Linked DNA regions of Homo sapiens: regions 1 and 3 are each linked to region 2. Evidence: fine-mapped expression QTL. A gene starts in region 2. Each other region holds a variant in brackets. All regions are shown on one strand. Distances are from middle to middle.

What was found.
Region 1: its variant is fine-mapped to the expression of NATD1 in whole blood (TOPMed, PIP above 0.99).
Region 3: its variant is fine-mapped to the expression of NATD1 in whole blood (TOPMed, PIP 0.96).

Annotation. Positions count from the first base shown.
Region 1 is chr17:21,205,572-21,213,749 of GRCh38, reverse strand. All of the region lies in intron 1 of TMEM11 (transmembrane protein 11), which reads left to right. Among named protein-coding and RNA genes, the nearest start is that of TMEM11, 4.5 kb to the left of the region's middle. RefSeq lists an enhancer at 8,012-8,178. The variant AATTT/T (reference allele first, on the strand shown) is at 4,301.
Region 2 is chr17:21,248,561-21,256,738 of GRCh38, reverse strand. It overlaps NATD1 (N-acetyltransferase domain containing 1), which reads left to right and starts at 3,329. Exons shown (of 3, transcript NM_152914.3): 1 at 3,329-3,580. The coding sequence starts at 3,475. RefSeq lists silencers at 3,328-3,437, 3,588-3,707 and an enhancer at 7,198-7,699.
Region 3 is chr17:21,215,434-21,223,611 of GRCh38, reverse strand. TMEM11-DT (TMEM11 divergent transcript) reads right to left here. Exons shown (of 2, transcript NR_184102.1): 2 at 2,879-3,247. Among named protein-coding and RNA genes, the nearest start is that of TMEM11-DT, 5.2 kb to the right of the region's middle. The variant T/C (reference allele first, on the strand shown) is at 4,515.

The sequences.
Region 1 (8,178 bases), 43 kb after region 2:
GAAGCACCCTTCCCGCCTGGGCACGCGCGTGGCCATCTCGGCCGCGGCCCCAGACGTGTAGAGGAAGGCAGGGCCCCCGGAGAGAGAAAGAAGGGGAAGCCTTCACAGAGCAGGCCGGCCGCGGCAGGGGTAGTTTGATCTGCACGTTTACTAGGGAGCTTTAGCTCCCGCCAGATGTGTCTCTTCCGAGCCCAGAGCCGGCCACTTCCTCGAGGGAAGATTCTGAAGACTTTTGGATGGTTCTGTGCAAGCGCTCCTGCCGTAGAAGTCCTTTAAAGTGACCTTTCCTAATGAATGGTGTGTGGGCAGGGAGCTAGGAGCGTGTTTCTTCCAACAGGGACCTCCATTTGAATAACTGATTTCTAGAAGATGAGATTGGAGTAGTTTCCGTGTTTCATGTTCAAGTTGCAGTTTTTGCATCTGGGAAGCAGTTTCAGCTAGTGGAAACCACTAGAAGCTGTTCAGCCACTAGAAATTTGGGAGAAGATGTATTGGTGGAGCCACCTGGATTAACTGTCCGCTAAAGCTTGATTGTTATAGCAGCGGTCAGCAAAAAAGGAAAAGTTTTTGTTTTGCTGGTTCTCCCCCTCCCCGTCTTTTTGGTGAGGATTGTCTAACAGAAAAGTTATCTTCCTCTCAACTACTCTGCATTATTCCTTTTCTGTGACTGATTCCATCCCGTGTTCATTGCTATTGCTTGCAGATGGCTTTCCCAGCTGGGAAGATTCTTCCTGTTTGGCAGTTGTGATAGAATCCTTTAGCTTGCTTGCACTTTATTCTTTAGCCCAGTTATCCAGCGTTGCCCATTCTGCATTTCCTCTTCCTTGGAAAAGCAGTGGTAAACACACTTTTGTTTTTCTAACTCCCGCCTGGTATTAGATTGGACCATTTAAATAAGTTACCTCAATGGTTTTCAGATGCTCTTAAAAACTAGCAAACATTTTCAAGATATTCAATGCAAACAGTAATACGAAATAACCTGTTTAGAAAACAAAGTATTAGAAACATACGCCCTCTTGTTGGACTAAAAGCATCTGAAAAGAGCCGAATAGGGATGCCTCAGGCAGGGAACAGGAGCCTTGCCAGCACAGGTTAAGCTTTTATTGATCTAAGAAAATAGATGCTGAGAATTGTTTTTGTTTTGGCTTGAGACAACTGTTTATTCAAAATGGATCTGCAAATTAGCAGTGCATAGGCTGGATCCAGTCCTTGACTGTTGAACCTCAACAGTTTTTAAGAGAATTTAAATTAGTTGCCAGCAGATTTCATATAAAACGCTCCCTGAAAAGCTGGGTAGTGGCTGACTCTTTTTGGTCGGGACAAGTGCTTGGTTCCAGTTCTTGGTTCCTCACCTGACAGCTTGACTCAAATCACCTGACAGCTTGACTCAAATCACCTGTCAGCTTGACTCAATGCATTTGCCTGCTTGGTCTCTGTAGGTGTTCAGGTTGCACCTTTGGCCTGGAACTGAAGGCTCTACTCACACACGCAGATGTTGTGTGTCAGCAGGAATGTGGCATTTGGTTTTGTAGTTTGGATGTCACCATCTACTCTCCTAGATAACGTGGTATGGGTGGAGACTACCTGTCTGTTTGCTCTTGCTGTAAACCCCTAGCCAGGTTCTGTTGGAAGAGTCATTTCCCCGAGCCCAGCTTCCCTAAGCTCTTCCCATGCTGAGCAGGGGATGGAAACATAACCCGCTGTGGGGCTAGCGAGCTGACTTCTGGGCATCCCTCCATTCCTGCTCAGTTGGTGATGACTGTTCAGGTGGGGCAGGGCGGATTAGCTGATGGCCCAGCACTCTAGATTATGAGATCTGAGTGTATTATTGGCTCTTATGACTGAAGTAGGCTGTTTATGGCTCTCTAAAATGACTTTGTTCCATGTCACATTCGTGCTGACTCAAATCTCAGCTCCATGTTATACGAGTGCTCTCTCCCGTTGCTGCTCACACCTGGTTAGCATCTGCTTTTGCTGAAGCTGAGGGAAACATTATCTGGTTTGGGGAAGGGGCTAGAACAGAGTGACACTTTGGGCACACTTGCCAGATTTGCCAGCGGCTACCAACTCTGAAGCATGCATTGTACTTAAAGGTCCCACCCAGTGCCAGACTGCCTGCAGTATTACTGCCGGCGCTGTGTGTTGGATGGTCCAGTTTAGCACGTGTAGCGTGTGGGTTCTTGCTTTACCTTGTTGAGTCTAGAACCACAGCTCTAGAATTAGTGCTGAATTAACACAGCAGTTCAGTAGTCACCAGCTACATGTGGCAATTACATTTAAATTCATTAAAATTAAGTAAAATGAAGAATTCAGCTCCTCAGTCTCACTAGCCACATTTCAAGTGCTCAATAGCCACTTCCGGCCTGTGGCTACCATATTGGACAGCATAGGTGGAGGACATTTCCATCACTGCAGAAAGTTATGATATGGACAGTGCTGGTTTCGACTAAGATAGGAGGGGTGGAAATAGCAAAATGGTAGTGCTTGCATGTTGATTTTTCTCTCCACTCCATTAAATCTAGGGAACCAACAGTGTTTGTAATGAAGAACATCAGACTCTGAGCTGTAACCTGAATTCTTGTCCAAAATTCAGCACACTGGCAACGAGCACATCAAACAGATTGCCACTTGTCCTGTCGGCGTCTTTGAGACACACTTGCCCATCTAGGAAAGCACAGTGCAGGTATCTGTGTTCTGCCACCGTGTGCCAGCCCGGACCAGCTCACAGACAGCCCTGCCTGTCTTACTTGGGCTGCTCGGCTTCACTGTCTCAGGGCCCCTGAACCTCCCAGAGCCCTCCGTGATTGTTGGAATGTGAGTATAGCTGTGTGCTCTTGAGTTCCTGTTTTTATAATCACGTGAAGATGTACTTGATCTGCTTCTGAGCATGATATGAGGCAACCTGGGGTGTGCAGAGGGCCAGATGCACGGGGCTAAAAGTTCAGGTTTAGCGCGAAGTTATTTGTTGTGGCCTGCCCCTCCCCTGGCTTGCGCGGCCATCTGCTCCAGCGTTTTATAGGCAGCCAGTTCCCTGGGCTGACTTTCATGGCTTTCCTTGCCATGCTTTATTCCCCAGGACCTGTCCTCTTCTTTGTGAACTCAGGTGTGCCTGGTCCCAGGTGGCCCTTACACGTTCATCCAGTGAGCAGATGGAGCACAGGCCCCGGGGGCAGGTTGGGTCATGGTCCCGGGGTGACAGCTTCCCTTTCTGATCTGATCCTTCCCTTTTAGACTCTCAGGCTTTGGGAGTATTTAATCTCTCTTGAAAGACTCCATGCTTGCTTTTGTGTGTGGCGGGAGTTTTTGTTTCCTTCTGGCTGGGATGAGATGAGCAGATACGGGATCTGCACCCAAGTGTGTGGGGGTTTAGCCACTGGTTGTGGGATTCTGCTCAGCTCTTTAACAAAGGCAAAGCCACATGTTCTGGCCGCAGAAGTTGGATTCGTAGGTAAGGATGGGGTTCATCCTCTTCAGTATTGATGTGCCTTCAAGTTTTCAAGAATTTCTGTTTTCCTTGGTTCACTCAAGCAGCCTGGATTCCAAGTGCATTAATTTGTGTCTCAGTGGTTCAGTCCTTTAGGTCATGTTCCAGGGAAGGCTCCCCTTTCTGAAGAGGGGAGGGCTGCGCCTGGGTCCACGGAGGTGGGGAGGTGGCTCCTCTGCCCCGGCTTGTCGGTGTGCACCTGTTCTTCAATGAGCGAGGTGCGGGGGGTGGAGTTGGGCAGCACTCCATGACCGAGCACACCCGGGAACCTCCTGACTGCCACGGTGTTCCGCCCTGGTGCCAGCAGCCACTTTATGGGCACAGTTCTCAGGAAAAGCTGACAGCCATGTAGTAGTCATAACAGTTCTTCAGAGCAGGGCTGTCCAGTAGGAGTTTCTGGCATGACAGACTCCTGGCGTGTCCCTGCAGTCCATTAGGGCAGCCATTAGCCACGTGTGGCTCTGAGGAACTGAGGTTTCATTTATTTATTTATTTTATGAGACAGGTCTGGCTCTGTCACCCAGGCTGGAGTGCAGTGGTATGATCTCGGATCTCTGCAACCTCCGTCTCCCTGGCTCAAACCATTCTCCCACCCCAGCCTCCCGAGTAGCTGGGACCACAGGCATGTACCACCACGCCCAGCTCATTTTTGTATTTTTTGTAGAGGCAGAGTTTTCACCATGTTGTCTAGGCTGGTCTTAAAATTTGTGGGCTCAAGGAATCCACCCGCCCTGGCCTCCCAAAGTGCTGGGATTACAGGCGTGAGCCACTGTGCCCGGCCAGGAACTGAATTTTTTAAGATGTCTAATTTTAATT[AATTT/T]AAATTTCAACAGCCACATGTGTCTTAGGCAGAGGGGCAGTGCTTGGCGACTGTTCCCATCTTCACTGCAGTCCTCTGGGAGAGCCAGGGCCTCTGGCCCCGTTTGACAACATGGGAAACTGGCTCAGAGGGGCCGGGTGTTTTGCCCTAGGACACAAAGCCAGTAGGCAGCCGAGAGGGAACTTGAATCCACCCTCTCGACTCCCACACTTGGTGCGCCGTGTTCCTGCTCCCCAGATAGAAGGGCTGCTGAGTTACCAGTGCGCAGAATAGGAAAGTGTCCTCTGAAGCAGACGAAAGGGCTGGGTGTCCTGTGAAAGTTCCTTGGCCTGTGGGAGCCGTCCTCAGGCCATGGGGCCGCATGCCCGTGCCTTTGAGTCTGGGGCACGGGCTTTCACTGCTTCAGTCCTCTGCTTTCTGTGGGTCCCAAAGAAGCAGGGCTTAATTAGGCAGAAGCGGGTGGAGGTCCAGCCCAGCACCTCCTGTATCATAGGTGATCAAGTGACCCTTTCACTAAGTGAAAAGCAGCCTGACGGATGGGTTGACTTTTCTGGTACCAGTTCTCTTAATAACCATAATTGTTTTTCTCCTCCTGTGACTCCTGTGGCTCATGTCTGTAATCATTACAAATGTCCCTCCAACCTGTGTCTTTTGGGAACCTGTTACATTCAGGCCCAGTGCTGGGGAAACTACGATGAAAATGCAGCCTCTGCCCTCATGGAGCTTCAGGCCTGCCTGTGAGCCCGGGCCCCACTCCAAGAAGGGGCCTAATGTGGATGCTTCCACTCAGATTTGCCTCTGCTGGGTCTCTCAGAACTGGGAAGGTGATTGGTGGCTGGCCTGGCAGCTTAGCCAGTGTTTGCTCAAGGGAAACGGAGCTGGAACTGCCCTCCTCTTTTTGGGCAGGACTACAGGTACACACCAGCATGACACCTCAGCCATGAGAAGCTGCCCGCGTCCAGACTTCTGCCTTTCATGGACACCGAGAAGGTTCTGGAGCAGGAAGTGAGCCACCTCCCGCTCTTCTTGGCAGTGGAAGGAGGCCCTCCCACGGGTATCTGGTCCCTTTACCTCAAGGGATATAGGGTTGAACAGAATTTTTCTTTTTAAGAATAAGTTTATAATTATTTTTCCTGTTATAAAAGAAACACTTTGGCCGGGCGCAGTGGCTCATGCCTGTAATCCCAACACTTTGGGAGGCCGAGGTGGGCGGATCACGAGGTCAGGAGATTGAGACCATCCTCGCTAACACAGTGAAACCCCGTCTCTACTAAAAATACAAAAAATTAGCCGGGCGTGGTGGCGATTGCCTGTAGTCCCAGCTACTCTGGAGGCTGAGGCAGGAGAATGGCGTGAACCCAGGAGGCGGAGCTTGCAGTGAGCCAAGATCACGCCACTGCACTTGAGCCTGGGCGACAGAGCGAGACTCCGTCTCAAAAAAAAAAAAAAGAAACACTTTTTTTTAAAAAATATAGAAAAGCATGAAGAAATTGACAAGTCACCTATTAGGCCACCATCCAAAGAAAACCACTGTTGATCTATTTTCTTGTTTCTTTTGAGACAATGTCTCGCTCTTGTCCCCCTGGCTGGAGTGCAGTGGTGTGATCTTGGCTCACTGCAACCTCTACCTCCTAGGTTCAAGCGATTCTCCTGCCTCAGCCTCCTGAGTAGCTGGGATTACAGGCGCCTGTCACCACACCTGGCTAATTTTTGTATTTTTAGTAGAGACGGGGTTTCACCATGTTGGCCAGGCTGGTCTGAAACTCCTGACCTTAGGTAATCCGCCCGCCTCGGCCTCCCAAAGTGCTGGGATTACAGGCGTGAGCCACCGCGCCTAGCCTGATCTATTTTCATGTATAGCACCTTTGATACTTTGTCTTATATATCTTGCCTTAGGGGTTTTTAAAATTATATTATTGAGACGGACTCTCACTTTGTCACCCAGGCTGGAATGCAGTGGTGCAGTCTCGGTTTACTGCAGCTTCTGCCTCCGGGGTTCAAGCGATTCTCCTGCCTCAGTCTCAAGTAGCTGGGACCACAGGCATGCACCACCACGCCCAGCTAATTTTTGTATTTTTAGTAGGGACACAGTTTCACCACATTGGCCAGCCTGGTCTTGAAGTCCTGACCTCAGGTGATCTGCCCACCTCAGCCTCCCAAAGTGCTGGGATTACAGGCGTGAGCCACCATGCCCAGCCTTATCTTAGATTTTTTAAAGTTATATGTTAAACACATCAAAAGTTATGTTTACAATATGTGAAAAGTAATAAACATGCCACAGCATGATGGCCCTTAAAAACATAATGCAAAATGAAAGAAGCCAGTTGTTGAAGACCACGTTACAGGATTCCATTTAAATGAAATACCCAGAATTGGCATATCCAGAGAGTTGGGAAGCCGACTGGTGGTTGTGGAGGGCTGGGGAGATGTGAAGGGACCACTAATTGGTACAGGGTTTCTTTCTGAGATGATGAAAATGCACCAGGATCAGTTGTGCTATTGGTTGCACAACTTTGGGAAAGCCACTTCATCGTTCACCTCCGATGGGGGAGTTGCTCTGTGAATTCTATCTCAGTAAAGCTGTGAATTCTATCTCAGTAAAGCTGCCATTAAAAAATACAAATCAGGCCAGGCATGGTGGCTCATGCCTGTAATTCCAGCATTTTGGGATCACCTGAGATCAGGAGTTCGAGACTAGCCTGGCCAACATAGAGAAACTCTGTCTCTACTAAAAATACAAAGTTAGCTGGGCGTTGTGGCACGTGCCTGTAATCCCAGCTGCTTGGGAGGCTGAGGCAAGAGAATTGCTTGAACCCAGGAGGTGGAGGTTGCAGTGCTCCGAGATTGTGCCACTGCACTGCAGTCTGGGTGACAAGAGTGAAACTCCGTCTCCACAAAATAAATAAACAAATAAAAATAAAGAAAATGAGACCAGGTACAATGGCTCTTACTTGTAATCCCAGTGCTTTGGGAAGCTGAGGCTGGCAGATCACTTAGGAGTTCGAGACCAGCCTGGCCACCATGGTGAAAACCCTGTCTCTACTAAAAATACAAAAATTAGCTGGGCGTGGCAGCACATGTCTGTAGTCCTAGCTATTTGGGAGGCTGAGGCAGGAGACTCGCTTAAGCCCGGGAGGCGGAGGTTGCAGTGAGTCGAGATAGCGCCATTGCGCTCCAGCCTGGGCAATGGAGCGAGACTGCCTCAAAAGAAAAGAAAACGGAAAATAACAAGTGTTGGTGAGGATATGGAGAAATGGGAACCCCTGTGCGCTGCTGGTGGGAATGTACAATGGTGCAGCTGCTCTGGAAAACAGTATAGAGATTCCTCAAAAAAACTAAAAAATTGAACTGCTATATGATCCAGCAGTTCCACTTCTGGGTATATATACCCCCCCCCCAAAAAAAGCAGGGACTCAAAGAGATGTTTGTGCACCCATGTTCATAGCAGCATTATTCACAATAGCCAGTGGTGGAAACCGAAGTGTCCATCACAGATGAATGGATTAACAAAATGTGGTTTATGCATACGGTGGAACATTACTGAGCCTTAAAAAGGAAGAAAATTCGGATACATGCTACAATATGGATGAACCTTGAAGACTCGTTATGCTCTGTGGAATAAGCCAGACACAAAAGGGCATATACTATATATGATCCAACTTGTATGAAGTACTTGTATAGTCAGATTCATTGGGGTAGAAAGTAGAATGGTAGTTTGCAGGGGCTTGGGGTTGGTGGGGAATGGGGGGATCATTTCATGGGTAGAGTTTCAGTTTGGGAAGGTAAAGGAATCCTGGAGGTGGATGGTGGTGATGGTTGGTACATCAGTGTGCATGTGCTTAGTGCCTCTGAACTGTACACTTAAAAGTGCTTA
Region 2 (8,178 bases):
AATGGCTAACTTGGAAAAGAGTGTACAACGAATGAAACTCTCAAAATTGTCAGCAGGAGTGTAAAATGGTACACCCGCTTTGGAAAAAGCTCTGGCAATTTCTCACAAAACTAAATATACACCTACTATAAGATCCAGCAAAGGCCAGGTATGGTGGCTCATGCCTGTAAACCCAGCACTTTTTGAGAGACCAACACAGGAGGATCACTTGAGTCCAGGAGTTTGATACCAGCCAGAGCAACACAGAGAGGCCCCCAACTCTATGAAACTGAAAAAAATTAGCCCAGGATGGTAGCACGCTGTAATACAAAATTAGCCGGGCGTGGTGGTGCATGCCTGTAATCCCAGCTACTCGGGAGGCTGAGGCAGGAGAATCGCTTGAACCCAGGAGGCAGAGGTTACGGTGAGCCAAGATCGTGCCATTGCACTCCAGCCTGGGCAACAAGAGTGAAACTCCGTCTCAAAAAAAAAAAAACCCATAAAATATATATAATTAGACTGACAAAACAGACTCTTTTTTTCCTTTTTTTTTTTTTTTTTGCTCACTGCAAGCTCTGCCTCCCGGGTTCGCACCATTCTCCTGCCTCAGCCTCCGGAGTAGCTGGGACTACAGGCGCCCGCCACCACGCCCGGCTAATTATTTTTTTGTATTTTTAGTAGAGATGGGGTTTCACCATGTTAGCCAGGATGGTCTCGATCTCCTGACCTCATGATCCGCCTGCCTTGGCCTCCCAAAGTACTGGGATTACAGGCGTGAGTCACCGCGCCCGACCCAAAACAGACTCTTTGTAGCACTAAGATAACAAATTCCAACCTGACTCTGGTATAGCATCGCATGACAGATAACAGGCCCCGAAGGAAATTAACGAATTTTACCCAAAAATATATTATTCGACTTATTTTGGAATGGCCCTGCAATGCCATCTCTTGTGGGGGAAATTTGCATGTGTGGAGAATCCCCCTCCCTTTCTGGGTCTTTTTCTGATTAAGGAGAGATTTGACTAAGAGTCTGACACCTTTTAAAGTCCTAAAAGAGACATTTACCATCTATTCTTTCTGAAGCCTGCTACTTAGAGGCTTCATCTACATAATAAGAACCTTGGCTTCCACACACCCCTCCTTATCTTAACTCGAGTATTTCTTTCTGACATCAACTCTTTTTAGGAAAAGCTTAACTCTTTCAACCACTTGCCAATCAGAAAATCTTTGAATTGGGGGGGTGGGGTGGGGGCGCGAGGTGAGGGTGGCTCACACCTATAATCCCGGCACTTTGGGAGGTCTAGGCAGGTGGATGAGGTCAGGAGTTTGAGACGGATGGATCGCCTGAGCCTGGGCAACATGGTGAAACCCCATCTCTAAAAGAAATACAAAAATATTAGCCGGGTGTGGTGGCCCATTCCAGTGGTCCTAGCTACTTGGGAGGCTGAGATGGGAGGATCAGAGGATATTCTCGGTAAATATATCTGACAAAGGAACGGCTTGAGCCAGGTAGGCAGAGGTTGCAGTGAGCCAAGATGGCGACACTGCACTCCAACCTGGGTGACACAGCGAGACCCTGTTTCAAAAAAAGAAAAAGAAAATATTTGAATACACCTATGAGCTGTAAGCCCCCACCACTTTCTGGATGGCCGAACCAATGTACACCTTACAGGTATTAGGTCTTTGCCTGTAACTTCTGTCTCCCTAAAATGTATAAAACCAAGCTATAACCCGACCACCTCCAGCACATGTTCTCAGGACCTCCTGAGGCTGTGTCCAGGGCCATAGTCACTCATATTTGGCTCAGAATAAGCTCTTCAAATATTTTACAGTTTGGCTTTTTTTGTCAACACAATGGAATAATTACTCAGTGGCGAAAAAGATGCAAAAACAGGGATGAATCTCACAGATAAAATATTGAGCAAAAGAAATTGGACATTAAAAGTACATATTGGACTGGGTGCGGTGGCTCATGCCTGTAATCCCAGTACGATGGGAGGCCAAGGCGGATGGATCACCTGAGGTTGGAAGTTTGAAACCAGCCTGGCCAACATGGCGAAACCCTGTCTCTACTAAAAATACCAAAATTACCCCGGCTTGTTGTTGTAGCCCTGTAGTCCTAGCTCCTCAGGAGGCTGAGGCAGGAGAATCGCTTGAACCCAGGAGGCAGAGGCTGCAGTGAGCCGAGATCAAGCCACTGCACTCCAGCCTGGGCGACAGAGAGAGACTCCGTCTTAAAATAAAATAAAATAGTATATATTGTATGATTATGTTTACATGATGGTCTAGAGAAACCTAATTAGTCAACAACACTAGAAGTCAGGGACAGTGGTTACCTCAAAGGGTAGGGCATTGCTTGGAAGAGGGCCCTAGGGAACCACCAGTGTTCTGTATTTTGATTTGGATGGTGGTCACACGGGTGTGAACATCAAGTTTGCACCGTAATTAGCAAAATATTAAAAGTAACCTGTATGATTCACTGCACAGCTATGGGCAACAGGAGTGCCCCTTCAGGTGAGCAAGAGGGGAGGGTGTGGCTCTAAGGTTGAGCCTTGAGGAGCCTAATTAAGGCGCCTTTCAAAGAAGTCTGAGCCCCAACAGTCCTGTGTGTCTTCAAGCAAGTCCCTGCCCCTTTCTGGGATTCAGCCTCCCCATCTATGGAGTGGATCCAGGGATCCCCAAGGCCTCTTCCCGCATTTACGCCTCTCTTTGGGAGAGGTGGCATTTCACTCCTATCCCAAACAAGGCTTCACAGGACAATTCCTTCCCAGTAGCCAGTAGCCACCCAGGCTGCCAACACGGGTGGGTGCGCACTCCTAGCACCAGTAGCCCCAGGGCTTCAGCTGCGTGAGAACTTATGCATGTCTTTCACTTGTCTTAGCCTCTATTTGCTCATCTGTAAAATGGAGTCAAGCATACCTATTTCTCAGGCTTCTGGTGATAAATCTCAGCGCAGTGATTACTGAGCGCCCTGTGCGCCAGGGCTTTGCTATACACAGGCCGTGCACACAGCAAGTGCTTAATAAATGGTGGCTGCCTTGGGGACGATTAGAATGTCCATACAAAAGATTGTTACGTCTTTTTTAGAAGGCTCCTTGCGGGGGTCCCAAAGTTGCACGTGGGACAAACGCAAGACGGAAAAGTAGCCGGCGCGGCGCGGCGGCGGCCCGTGTTGTTTTGTTTGGGGCTGCGAGAGGAACGCGGCCGGCGCGGCCCCTTTAAGAGGTGACTGGAATGTATCAAAACAAAAAGGCCGCGCGTCCACTGGCTGCGCGCCGCACGTGACCTCACAGCTGATTTCCTGGCCCCCCCCCCACCCTTTTTGTTGCTGCCGCCGCCGCCGAGTGTCACTTTCAGCGCCGCCGCCTGCGGTCTCCCAGGCCGTAACTACCCCACCGCCTGCCGCCTGCGCCCGCGCTCCAGCCCCGCCGCGCGCCTGACCTTTCCCCGCGCGCCCCGGCCCCCGCCGGCGCCGCGCCGCAGCCCCGCGCGCAGATGGCGCACTCGGCTGCCGCCGTGCCGCTGGGCGCGCTGGAGCAGGGCTGCCCCATCCGCGTGGAGCACGACCGCCGGCGCCGCCAGTTCACTGTCCGGCTCAACGGTAAGGCGGCCCCGGCCCGCCCCGACCTTTTGTCTGCGAGCGAGCGGGGCCCGCCGGGGCCGCCCCCTTGCTGGGTGCCTGTCCCCCGCGCGCCCGCGGCCCGGCTCCGGCCCGCCGCCCGGGAAGGCTGTTGCAAGCGCGCGCCGCGGGGTGGTCCCGGGCGGCCGGAGCTCCGGGCGCGGGCCGGGTTGTGCTCGGGGCCAGGTGGGGGCGCGGCCGGCGCTCCGGGAAGTGGAACGGGCTGGGCGGGGGCAGACTTCCCGGGAGAGCAGGGGCCAGGGCGGACAGGGGCCCCTGGAAAGGCAGAGGCAGGAGCTGGGGCAGCGCGGGTCCCCTGTCTCAGCCGCAGGGGACCCGCACCTGCTCAGGCCCACTTGTTCACGACTGTTGGGCACCCACTGAAGGCTCCTGTTTGAGATCCTGGAAAGTTGGTCAGCCGTGACCTGTCCCCTTCTGCGGGTGGTATATGGCTTCCTGCTGCCCCTGGGAATCTTAGTCTTTCTACACGGGGGAGGCCTGCGGACCTGGGGCTGACCGCGAAAGGGGCTTGTGGTCCCCTGGGGGGAGTGAGGGGCGGGGGGATGGCTATCACTATCAAGACTTCAGTGGCTCTGGGACTGGCCATTTGCCTCACTTCTGTGTGCCTTAGTTTCTCCCTCTCTGCAATGGGAATAATACCAGTGCACACCCCATTGGCTAGTTGTAAGGATGAAAGACTGTAACAAATGTAAAGGATCAGACCAGCTCATGGGGGATTAGTAAGTGCTGGTAAACGTGGCCCGATCGTGATTCGTGAAGCCAGAAAGCAAGGGCAAGTTCTCCCTTAGTGTAGAGAAGTTTTTGTTTTTTGAGATGGAGTCTCACTCTGTCGCCCAGGCGACACAATGTTCCTGTGACACAATCTCGGCTCACTGCAACCTCTGCCTCCTGGGTTCAAGTGATTCTCCTGCCTCAGCCTCAGGAGTAGGTGGGATTACAGGCACCCACCACCATGCCCAGCTAATTTTTGTATTAGAGACAGGCTTTCACCATGTTGGCCAGGCTGGTCTTGAACTCCTGACCTCAGGTGATCCACCTGCCATGGCCTCCCAAAGTGCTGGGATTACAGGAGTGAGCCACCACGCCCTGCCAGTGTAGAGAAGTTTTGATTAGCCCATCCCCCCTCAGGAGGTCCCACAGGTAGGAAATAGAACTACAAAAACAAGGGCTATGAACTCCCTGTGGCCCACCTCGCCCCAGTGGGAATGTCCAAGCTGGACCGGTCCTTAGGGGCCACTGTGCCCATTTTCAAGAAGGGAAGGTGGAGGGCCAGGAAAGGGAAAGGCTTGCGAGAGGTCAGGCTGAGAGTTGGGCAGAGCTGGGATGGCGTCCTGACTGGTCTGACTCCCTGAACGGTGGGGCTCCTGCGACCCACATTTGGCTTCAGCCAGGAGGGGCCTCTGCCAGATCTCCGATGCCATTTGGAATGTGCCGAGTGTCGAGCCAGGCCCCACTACAGCTTCGTGGATGGGACTGTCACAATACCCTGACAATGTTGTGACATACCACCCCGTGTTACAGATGAGGAAACTGAGGCTAGGGACCTTAGGAAGTGATTGCCCAGCATCACCCAGAACTTCACCATTGGCCCAACCAACCCTACACCACCAGGCAGAGGCAAGTCCTGCTACTGCTGTGGTGCTGGCAGGGCTCAGCTGGCCAGGACACTCGGGGCCCTGGCGACTCTGGGAGAGAGGCCTCATGGCTTTCAAATCCTCTCTTCTGAGGTTCCAGAGCGGCCTCTGGTTCCCTTGTGGGCTCGGGAGGGCCATTATACTCAGAGACAGAAAGAAGAGGGGATACGTTTGTTTTTTTTTTTTTTTTTTCTTTTTCTTTCTCTTCCAAGTGGGTACAGCCAAAGGACAGCCCTCCAGAGCTGGCCGTGGTCAGGGCTGGACATGCCCAGCCGTATTTCTAAACTTACCCCCTTCTGGAATTCACTGCCCAGATAGCTGACCACAGATGTGGCTGGGCATCTCCCCAGCCAAGCCCAGGGGAGAAAGAAGAGAGAGGCCAGAGGCCCCCAAGGGAGTGGCTGTGCAGCACAGGGTGGGGCTCTTCTGGGCTTCCAGGCCCCACTGGGTTTGGGTGTGTGTCTTGGGACCAGAGAGGGGTCGTCTGAGTCTGAGCCCAGGCCTCCCTGAGCTGAGGAGGACAACAGGCTGTGGTGTCATTCCCGACCTGTAAGGCAAGCCTGGAGGCTGGTGCTGTTGTGCCCACTGAGAGATATAAACACTGAGGCTGAGGGGTCAGGTAGCCCCAGGCTCCTGGTGCAGAAGTGTTCCTAGGCTGTCCACATAGCACAGCTAGGCTGATTCTCTTCCTGCGAGCTCTGGTTCTGAGTGAGGGAAAACGTTTGAGCACCTTTGTTTATTAAGCATTTACAGTGTTCTAGGAGGCCCTGGGCACCTGGAGTCACTTTATTTCATAGCCACACACCACAGGGAGAGGGGAAACTGCATTTCCCATATACAGATGGGGAGACTGAGGCATGGGGAAGTGAAATGACTTGCCCAAAGTCTTGCACCACAGAGGTGGAAGAGCTGTGATTCACCCCGCAAGTATTTGTTGAGCACCTACCATGTACCAAGCACTCTTTTAGGTGTCGGGGTCTCCTGGGGCTGACAGTTTAGAGAGGGAAATGGACAAGAAATAGAGTCAGTTTTAAAGTATCCTGGAAAACAAGGGCTTTCATGAGAGGTGCAGGGGGCAGAGGGGAGGCTGTGTTGGGCAGGGCTGCTATTTACAATCATGTGTCTAGGAAGGCCCCTCCCTGGAGGGTGGCATTTAAGTGAAGACCTGAAGGAGGCAAGAAACAGAGCTGCAACAGGGAAGAGTGTTCCAAGTGGAGGGAATAGCAAGAGCAAAGGCTCTGCAGTGCCTGCGATGCCTTGTGTGTGCAGGATGGGTCAAGAGGTCATGGGGAGCAGGTGGTGCAGGGCCTGGAAGCCGTTGTCCTATGGGCTCGGCTTTGACTCTGAGGCTCCCAGGAGGGTCCTGAGCAGAAGACAGATGGGATGCCCCAGCTCCCTCTAGCTGCTGCTCTAAGGGGAGCAAACTGTGGGGACCAGGACAGAGCAGGGAGGTGGTTACTTTACTAGTCCAGGCACTGCAAACAGGCGTGGGAGAAACGTCTAGATCCTGGACAGATGTGGAAGGAAGCATGGCTGTGACTTGCTTGTGGGTGATGAGGGAAGGCTTGAGCTCAGGCTTGTCTGATGCCATATCCTGGTTCTGAAATGCAAGCTTGTCATTACTTTATAGATGGGGAAACCAAGGCGCACAGCCTGTAGGCAGCTAAGCCAGAATCAAGCCCCCGGCCTCCATCTGAGGACGGTTTCTGAAGGTTGGAGGCAGCTGGAAGAGACCCCCACCTCCTGGGCAGCCCCTTCCTTAGCCTTCCCTTTCCCTCACAGGCAGGGCTGAGTGTCCCACTTGCTGCAAGGAAAGGAACACTTGAGGGGTGCAGAACCCTGGAACTTTCTGCGTCCTCCCTAACCCCCATTTTGCAGCCAGGAAGACTGAGGCCCCAGAGAGTCAGCTGCTGCCCCTGGCCTCCCTCAGCACCCCTGGATGCAGTGGAGCTAAGATCACAGCCCCAGGCTTTGGGAGGTGCTCAGATCACAGCCCCAATATGAGGCCGCTGGCTGTGTTGGGCTGGGCTGGACCAGGGTCCTCTGGGGAGGGGAGGGACGTATGGTTGAGCTTCTCCAGGCTCACAGCTCCCTCTGCCTAATCTACCAATGAACCACCAACATGTGGCACCTCCCTGATCCAGGCTCTACTTACAGAGGTGCCAGAAAAGCCGGCCAGGGTGTCTGCTTGTCCTTGTCCCGTGCCACAGCTCTGGCGCCTGGGCTCTGCCTCCGTCTACCTCAGTCTCCTCATCTGTATATTCGCGTTTTGATCTGCCAGCTCTCCTTGCGGGGTCAGTGTGGGCCGAGTGGAGAAAGCAGAGGTCAATGTCTTCTGCAGACTCCACATCTCCCAGAGGTCCTGCCCCTGTCCCCTGTCTGCAAGCTTTGGTCTTTCTCTGTGATCGCCTCCCCTGACAATTTCCTGGCCCCCTTTGGTCCCGAGGTTCAGGAGGGGCAGAGAGAGCATGGGGGTGCAGAGACCCAGGGACGGGTCCCCCACGAGCAGTGTAGCTTTAACTTTTCCCAAACCAGTCACGTGATGCTGGTGGGGTTCTCAGGCCCAGGAGGGAGGAGGGTGGTAGTGATCATCCAGGGACAGGTGAGGTCTCTGGGGCAGAGGGGTGTCAGGACTGGCATAAGATCACCTGGCAGAGTTGAGACTGGAACTGAGGGCCCTGCCCTGCCCTAGGCTTGCTCCTGTGGCTCCCAAGTGACAAGTCTTGCCCCCCTGTGCTAGTCTGAGGTCTGGAGTTCTCAAGGCAGCTCTTAGAGCTGCCCAGATAAGGGCCTGGGCCAGGCCCAGAGGCTATGCCTATGTCACTGTGAGCCGAGACAGCAGGATCCACAGTGCCCAGAAGTGAAAGCGTGGCTGACAGTGCTACCCTGGTGTCCTGCTGTCCCATCATGGGGGCTGCGGGTGGT
Region 3 (8,178 bases), 33 kb after region 2:
CCAAAACCTTGGGACACAGAGCCATGTCCTCACCCTGTAGTGTCCTTGTCCCAAATCAACCTATTATCTCCAGCTCCCTCTCAGTCTTGCAGCTTCTCAGAAGAGGGACAGGTGAGGTGAGACAAGCCTGTCTTCATTTTGAGGCCTTGATCCAACTGGGAACGGGGGTGCTAGGGACTGAATTGTGTCCGCCTAGAATTCCTGTGTTAAGGACCTAACTCCCAGGACCTCAGAATGGGACTGTACTTGGAAACGGGGCTTTTAGGAGGCAACGAAGGTGCAATGAGGCCACAGGGTGGCATCTTAATCTGACAGAAAGGGTATGCTTATAAGGAGAGAACTCTCTGTGTCTCTCAGCCATGTGGGGACACAAGAAGGCAGACATCTGCCTTCAGCCGGAACGGGATCTGCCAGCACCTTGATCTTGCACTTCAGCCTGCAGAACTGTGAGCAGGAACTGTGTTGTTTCAACCACCCAGTCTGTGGTATTTGGCTAGGACAGACTCACATACCTCCTTACCTAGGTAGACCTCCTTCCCCACTCACCCCTAAGTATGTTCAGTGATATCGCCTGCCTAGCACTCACCTGAAAATATCTCATTCTTGAATGCCTGTCTCCCCAGACATGGGTTCCTTGCGGATGGGGCTGACCCATGAGGCTGCCCTGGCTCCCAGCCTGGAGCACACATGCCCTAACTAGGAGTGGGCAGAAGGATGGACAGAAGGAGAGATGAAAAAGTGTGATGCGATGCATGGGCGCTTCCTAGAATCTGTTTCCCATAACGTTAACTACCAGAGCAACTGCTGTCATCTGGCCAAGGGTTCCCTGGAAGTGTCTGGTGTGAGCAGGGGCCTTGCTGTGGAAATGCTGGACAAGAACAGGGCCCTGTTTGAGCAACAGGAGCCGCAGCCTCTTGTGGCCACCATGAGACACTGGGCAGCGTGGGCAGGCGCCTCCACCCATGTGCGTTTCCCAGTTCATGAAGTCAAAATGCTGCCAGATGTCTCACCTTCCACATCGTTGTTGTCAGGATGACACAGGCTCTGCAGTGAGCTATGGGAAGTGAGGGGCTGCAATGATCAAACCATCTTTGCCTTGCTTGCCACACCCTCATGTGACCAACTTGGCCCAGTTTGCCCAAAACTCTCCCAATATTAAAACTAAAAATCCCATGCCCTGGGACTCCCCTCAGGCCCAGGCAAGCCAGGACAGCTGGCCACCCTTCCACATTCCTGCTCTGTTTTGGCCCCTGCCTTAGATGAGGGGCTGGCCACATGAGCTATGGAAAGGAGGGGCCTCGTCCATTCATCTCTCCACCACCAGGGTTGTACAAGCACGCGCTAAGGTTCTAGTGACAAATGCATCTCCAAGTCTGCACCACAAGCTCAGCATTCTTGCTGTTTCCATTCTCCGCCAAGGCGGACAATAACATAAAAGAGGGCTCATCTGTGCTTTCCTAGACTCACATTGTAAAACTATGGGACCAGTGAGGAGTTCCATTTGCATCTTGGGGCAATGGGGTGTGCTTGGGGTTCCCTAGGAGTACTGCCCATGCTCACACCTTGGTGCCTTTCCCATGTCTGAGGTGGAAATGTTGATGTGGTGGGATAGATCAAGGCTCCCCAAGGACATCCTGGCTGCATGGTAGCCAGTGGCTTTTTTGGCCAATGGCTGGGCTTCTCTGCTGCTGAGCCCTGTTAGGCTAGCTTTGGTCTCACCAAGTGGAGAATGTCTGCAGAGAGGCCTTTAGAAGGGGGTTGATTTCAGTGATCTACTGCTGCATAACAAGGAAACCAGGGGCATCAAATCACAGCCACTTCATTCTGCTTGTGGATTCTGTGTGTGGGGAATCTAGAGAGGGCTCCACAAGAAGCAGAGGGCCCTGTCCCTGCTCAGCTGTGATGCTCACTAGAGCTTTGACACCTGGCCTCTCCACATGGCTTGGGCTTCTTCAGCATTAAGACTTCAGACTTCCATCACAGCACAGGGAGCTCCAGTGACAGAGCCTCTATGGCCTTTTAGGAGCCAACCTTAAAAGTCATTCAGCATCACTTCCTCTACACCCTGCTGACTGAAGCAGTTATAGGCCCACTCAGATTCCCTGGGAGGGGACTTAGGCACCACCCTGAAGGAAGGAATGCCGAGGAGTTTGCTGCCATGCTTTTAAACCACCACAGGGGTGCTGGGGGAGAGTCTTCGCATATGGAAAAGGTGGGACAGGGGAGGCTGAGAGAGAGCGAGCGAGCAGAAGAAAGTGAACAGGTGAGAGACAGAGTGTGGCCACTGTGGTAAGTCCTGGGATTTTGGAGAAAAAGCCGTGCTATGTGTGATGTCACCATTCTCATCCATCTCCCTGGGCAACTTCCACCAAGTCCACACCATTTGTCACTGCTTCCAGCCTTGGATTTCTTTTTATCTCAATGATGTGACATATAGGACCAGCCTCTGAGGTGCCTGCCAGGTAAAGGCTACCTCCATGAGGGTGGGGCAGGGCCAGTCCAGAGAGGCCTGGGGATGCCCAGATGGCAGTGTGGAGCCCTGAAATGAAGTAATGATGACTGGAACTTCGATTCACTGCACACACACACTGCCTCACTGTATGCTGAGGCTGAGGCTTCACTTTATTTTTTGAGACAGGGTCTCACTCTGTCACCCAGGCTGGAGTGCAGTGGTGCAGTCATAGCTCACTGCATCCTCCAGTTCCTGGGCTCAAGTGATCCTCCCACCTTGGCCTCCCAAAGTGCTGGGATTATAGGTGTGAGCCACCTCCCCGGACCCGAAGAATTTTTTTAATCCTACGTGTTATGGGCTGAGTTGTGTGCCCCTGCCCCTCACCCTCACTTCAATTCAAATAACACAATCTTAACCTCCCAGTACTTCAGAATGGACTGCATTTGGACTTTTATTAAAGAGAAAATTAAGTTAAAATGAGGCCATGAGAGTGGGTCTTAACCCAATCTGACAAGTATCCATCTAAGAAGAGCAGATTAGGGCTGGGCATGTTAGCTCATGCCTATAATCCCAGCACCTTGAGGGGCCAAGGTAGGTGGATCACCTGAGGTCAGTTGTTCAAAACCAGCTTGGCATTTAGAACGAGGAAACATTTTAGAATGAGGAAAGGTAGGAAAGGATACACACCAACCTTTCAATATTGTTAGGATCACAGCAGTGCAGGGTGGCTTGTGGAATTATTAACTCTTATGACATGTCACTGAAGAACAAGATCCTGTAAGTGAAATTGCATATCTGGGGGAAAACATTGAAGCTGCACATTAATGGATGGAATGAGAAATACAATCTCCAGTAACAGAAATTTTAAATGTACTGTTAATGAATTTTTTTTTTTTTTCAGACGGAGTCTCGCTCTGTCCCCCAGGCTGGAGTGCAGTGGCGCAATCTCTGCTCACTGCAGGCTCCACCCCCCGGGTTTACGCCATTCTCCTGCCTCAGCCTCCAGAGTAGCCGGGACTACAGGCGCCTGCCACCTCGCCCGGCTCATTTTTTGTATTTTTAGTAGAGACAGGGTTTCACCATGTTAGCCAGGATGGTCTTGATCTCCTGACCTCGTGATCCGCCCGCCTCAGCCTCCCAAAGTGCTGGGATTACAGGCATGAGCCACCACGCCCGGCCTGAATTTTTTTAAAGTAAATAAACTCTGACTTTTTTCCTTAGTAAATACAAATTATTAAGGCCACCTTTTAAAAAGAGCATCATATTCAAAACGTTCCATTTCACTCATGAGAAATTCAAATTTTACAGAAAACAAGATGTCATTTTTTAAAGAAACCTTTTTAAGGATAATTTTAGATGTACAGAGAAGTCGCAAAAATAGTACAGTTCTGTATAGCCTTCATCCTGGTTCCCCTGACATTAACATCTCACATAGTCATGGTATGTGTCAAAACTAAGAACCAACATTGGCAGTTACTATTAACTGAACTCAAGACCCCATTCAGATTTCACCTGTTTTTTGTTTTTTTTTTCCTTTCTTGAGACAGAGTCTCACTCCATCACCCAGGCTGGAGTGCAGTGGCATGATCTTGGCTCACTGCAACCTCCGCCTCCCAGGTTCAAGCGATTCTCCTGACTCAGCTTCCCGAGTAGCTGAGATTACAGGCTTGCACCACCATGCCCAGCTAACTTTTTTTGGTATTTTTAGTAGAGACGGGGTTTCACTATATTGGCCAGGCTGGTCTCGAACTCCTGACCTTGTGATCCGCCTGCCTCGGCCTCCCAAAGTGCTGGGATTATAGGCATGAGCCACCACACCCAGCCCAGATTTCACCTGTTTTTCCACAAATGTCCTCTGCTACCATATTGCATTTAGCGAGATACCACTTTTAAATTTGCAAAAAGAAAACACTTGCTAACAGACCATGCTGGCACAGCTGTGGGGAAATAGGCAGTGTCATGTACTGCTGGAGGGAGTGGGGTGTAGTCTGGCAATATTTATCAAAACAACAAGTGCCTACACTCTGACCCAGCAAGTTCTCGTCAGGAAATTATCCCAGTT[T/C]TATTTGCAATGGGTACCAGGAAGTGGCGCAAACATGTTTACTGCAGCACTCCTTGAAATAGTAAAAGACTGTCCAGAGACTGGCTGATACAATTATGGCATATCCAAACAATGGATTATCATGTACTGCTAAAACAAATCAGATATATACTGATACAGAGTGATCTCCAAGATACAATTAAGTGGAAAAAACAAAAACAAACAAGAAATGGAGGAATGTGCATAATATGCATCCTCTGGGCCAAAGAAAACATTTGTTAATATATGTCTACTTTATATCTGCAGAGGATCCATAACAAAGGTACCAGTTATTGCCTGCAGAGGGTTGTGGACAGAGATGGAAAGAGCCAGGTCACAAGAAGATGAGCAAAAAAACCCCCTTATTTTTCACTGTATATTGTTTTGTAATTTGAATTTTATACCATGTGAATATACTGCCCATTCAGACTTAAAATTCTACTTTTAAAATGCTCATTTTGATGCTTTTAATGGTAAATTCAAACCTTTATGTAGAACTATTATACCTAAGATATTGTTTTGGAAGATTTGCCTTTCCCTGAATGCTACTACATGCTATGAGGAATAAAAATAGGCTGAGTTTTTACTCCTCAAAACAGCCCTGCAAGATAGGCGCTGTGTGAATGGCATCTATTTTCTCCCCTACACCTGCCTTTCTATACTCTCCATGGTCAGGGCTGGAAGCCAAACAACTACATTTCCCAGACTCCCTTGTCATCTGACTCAGCCAGTGGGAGGCACTGGTGGGAGTTTGGAAGATATGAGATGGGGAAAGCAATTCTAATCTCTGGCTTCTGGTGGCACCCCAGGCCACAGCGGTGGTTCCAGTTGTGTGTCAGTAGTACCAGGCAGCAAGTGTGGCTCCAGGCTCCTGCTCAGCAGCTGAGGAATCAGTCTCTGGAAACGAATTTTCCTGTTGCTCCTCTAGCCTTGTGGGGGTCAGGCTTTGGGTGCCCTTGTTCTCCCCTTGTTTCTCATGCCCTTCCAACACCTTTGTAAACAATACCCTGTATTAAATGGTTTTTCCTCTAATTACACACTGGCTAATACAGATAAAATTACTCATATTTTACAGGTGAGAAACTGAAATTCAAATAGAGAAAGTGACTTAACCAAAGGCAAGCTAAGTACCACGCTTGTCTCATGATGCTCCAGCCACCTTGGTCCTAACCTTATTGGACCACCCCAGGCCCATCTGCACTGCAAAGCCATTGCATTAATTCGCTCTGCACAGAACATTCTGTCTTCAGTCCTTCGCATGCACACTCTTTCAAGTCCCACTCAAATGTTACCTTTTGATACAGTCGGGTTTTCGTTTTTAAGAGACAGGGTCTCACTCTGTCCCTCAGGCTGGAGTGTAGTAATACAAACATAGCTCACTGCAGTCTCAAACTCCTGGGCTCAAGAGATCCTCTCACCTCAGCCTCTCCAGTAGCTAGGACTACAGGCACGTGCCACCATACTTAGTTAATGTTTAAATTTTTTGTAGAGTCAAGGTCTCCCCATGTTGCCCAGGCTGGCCTCAAACTCCTGGACTCAAGCTGTCCTCCTTCCTCAGCCTCCTAAAGTGCTGGGGTTACAGGTGTGAGCCATTGTGCCCAGCCTTCAAATGTTACCTTTTTAGAGTGACCTCTTACCACCTGTGATCTCCAAGTCACTCCATTATATCATCCTGTTCCTTTTCTTCTTGGTACTCCTCTCTGAAAATATTTACTTAAGTTGTTTATCCCATTGGAATGTAAAGCCCGTTAAGACCCAGGAACAGTGTTTGTCTTACTAAACACCGTATCTCTGTGCCCAAGAGTACCTGCAGAGTATGCCTTCAACGATTTAAGAATGAATGAATGAAAAGTGTAGTAAGAGAAGTAGCAGATTACTTTGAGCACCAGCGAGGACATGCCTTTCCACTGGCTGCCTTCATACAGCAGGACAGAGGGCTCACGGGAGTCTCCACCGCAGGACAGCCCCCAGGAACTAATTCCCACCACTCAGGCTGTGCCCTCCAAAGGTGCTCAGCTAATACATACTGAGTCAATCAGGCTGCCTATGAACCTTCCAGACAACCTCCGTGCATTAACAGTAATCAGGAGGAAACACCGTGAGGATCTTAGACCAAGTTGGCAGATTAGAAGCAGACGGTCATTCAGAAGTTAAGGGGAGAGTAAAAAGCTGGAGAAATGGGATGTTCATTAGGGCCACAGTTGTTTCAGCATTTACATTTACTCTATGCACTAGACCTACCTCCAGTGCTTCTGGAGAGGCACAATGGCAGAGTGTAATCTCTGTAACTGGACAGTCTGGGCTCAAATCCTAGCACTTTCCTGGCTGGCAGTGTGAGCAAGTCACTCAGGTCGTCTGTAAGTTGATTTCCTCATTTACAAAATGAGATTGTTGATTAAAAAAAAAAGTGATACTATTATTAAGACAGAGTCTTGCTCTGTCATCCATTCTGGAGTGCAGTCGTGCGATCTCAGCTCACTGTAACCTCCACCTCCCGGGTTCAAATGATTCTCATGCCTCAGCCTCCCGAGTAGCTGGGATTACAGGCGTGTGCCACGATGCCCGGCTAATTTTTGTATTTTTAGTACAGACGAGGTGTCACCATGCTGGCCAGGCCGGTCTTGAACTCCTGACCTCAGGTGATCCACCCGCCTTGGCCTCCCAAAGTGCTGGGATTACAGGCGTGAGCTAACGCACCTGGCCAACAGTATCACTTTTATACAGTTGTTGTGAAAATCAAGATGTAGATCACTTAAAATATAAAACAGCACTTGGCCTCCATACACGTATCACCTCATGAAATACCGCAATCCTCTGAGGGGAGATACTATCATCCCATGATACAAACCAGGCAGCTGAGAAACAGAAGTTACACAAGCAGCCCCTGAGCCAGAAGTGCGTTCTAGAATCCCTAGTATACCCTCTGAATCACCACACTGATACAAAGAAAAGACAGCCATATCCGCAGTGTCATACCATGGAACTGTTAAGAGGTCTCCAGCATGAACTACGCTGACACTTGGAGGCAGGGCTGTATGACTCAACAGGAAGGCCAGGTACTTTTTAGAGACCAGACAGGTACAAGGTCTTGAAGGACAAAAGTTGGCTGGGAGAGCTGGGCACCGTGGCTCATGCCTGTAAATCCCAGCACTTTGGGAGGCTGAGGGGGATGGATCATGAGGTCAGGAGTTGGACACCAGCCTGACCAACATGGTGAAACCCCGTCTCTACTAAAAATACAAAAATTAGCTGGGTGTGGTGGCACCACCTGTAATCCCAGGTACTCAGGAGGCTGAGGTAGGAGAATTGCTTGAACCTGGGAGGCGGAGGTTGCAGTGAGCCAAGATCGCACCACTGCACTCAAGCCTGGGCGACAGAGCAAGACTCTGTCTCAAAAAAAAAAAAAAAAGTTGGCTGGGAGGTAAAAGCATTTTAGGTAAAGCATAGAACATCTACGTATCTGCAAACCCTCTGAATTTACTAGCCTGGCAAGTTCCAGACGGGAAAGGTAGGCAGTTGAATTTGGAGAGCTAGGCAACTTCCAAACTAAGGAGGGGCTTCTTGATTGTGCTAAGGAATTTGAATCACACACTGTAGGTGATGAGGGACGGTGAGAGGATTGCAAGCAGCTAAAACTGTGGTAGAA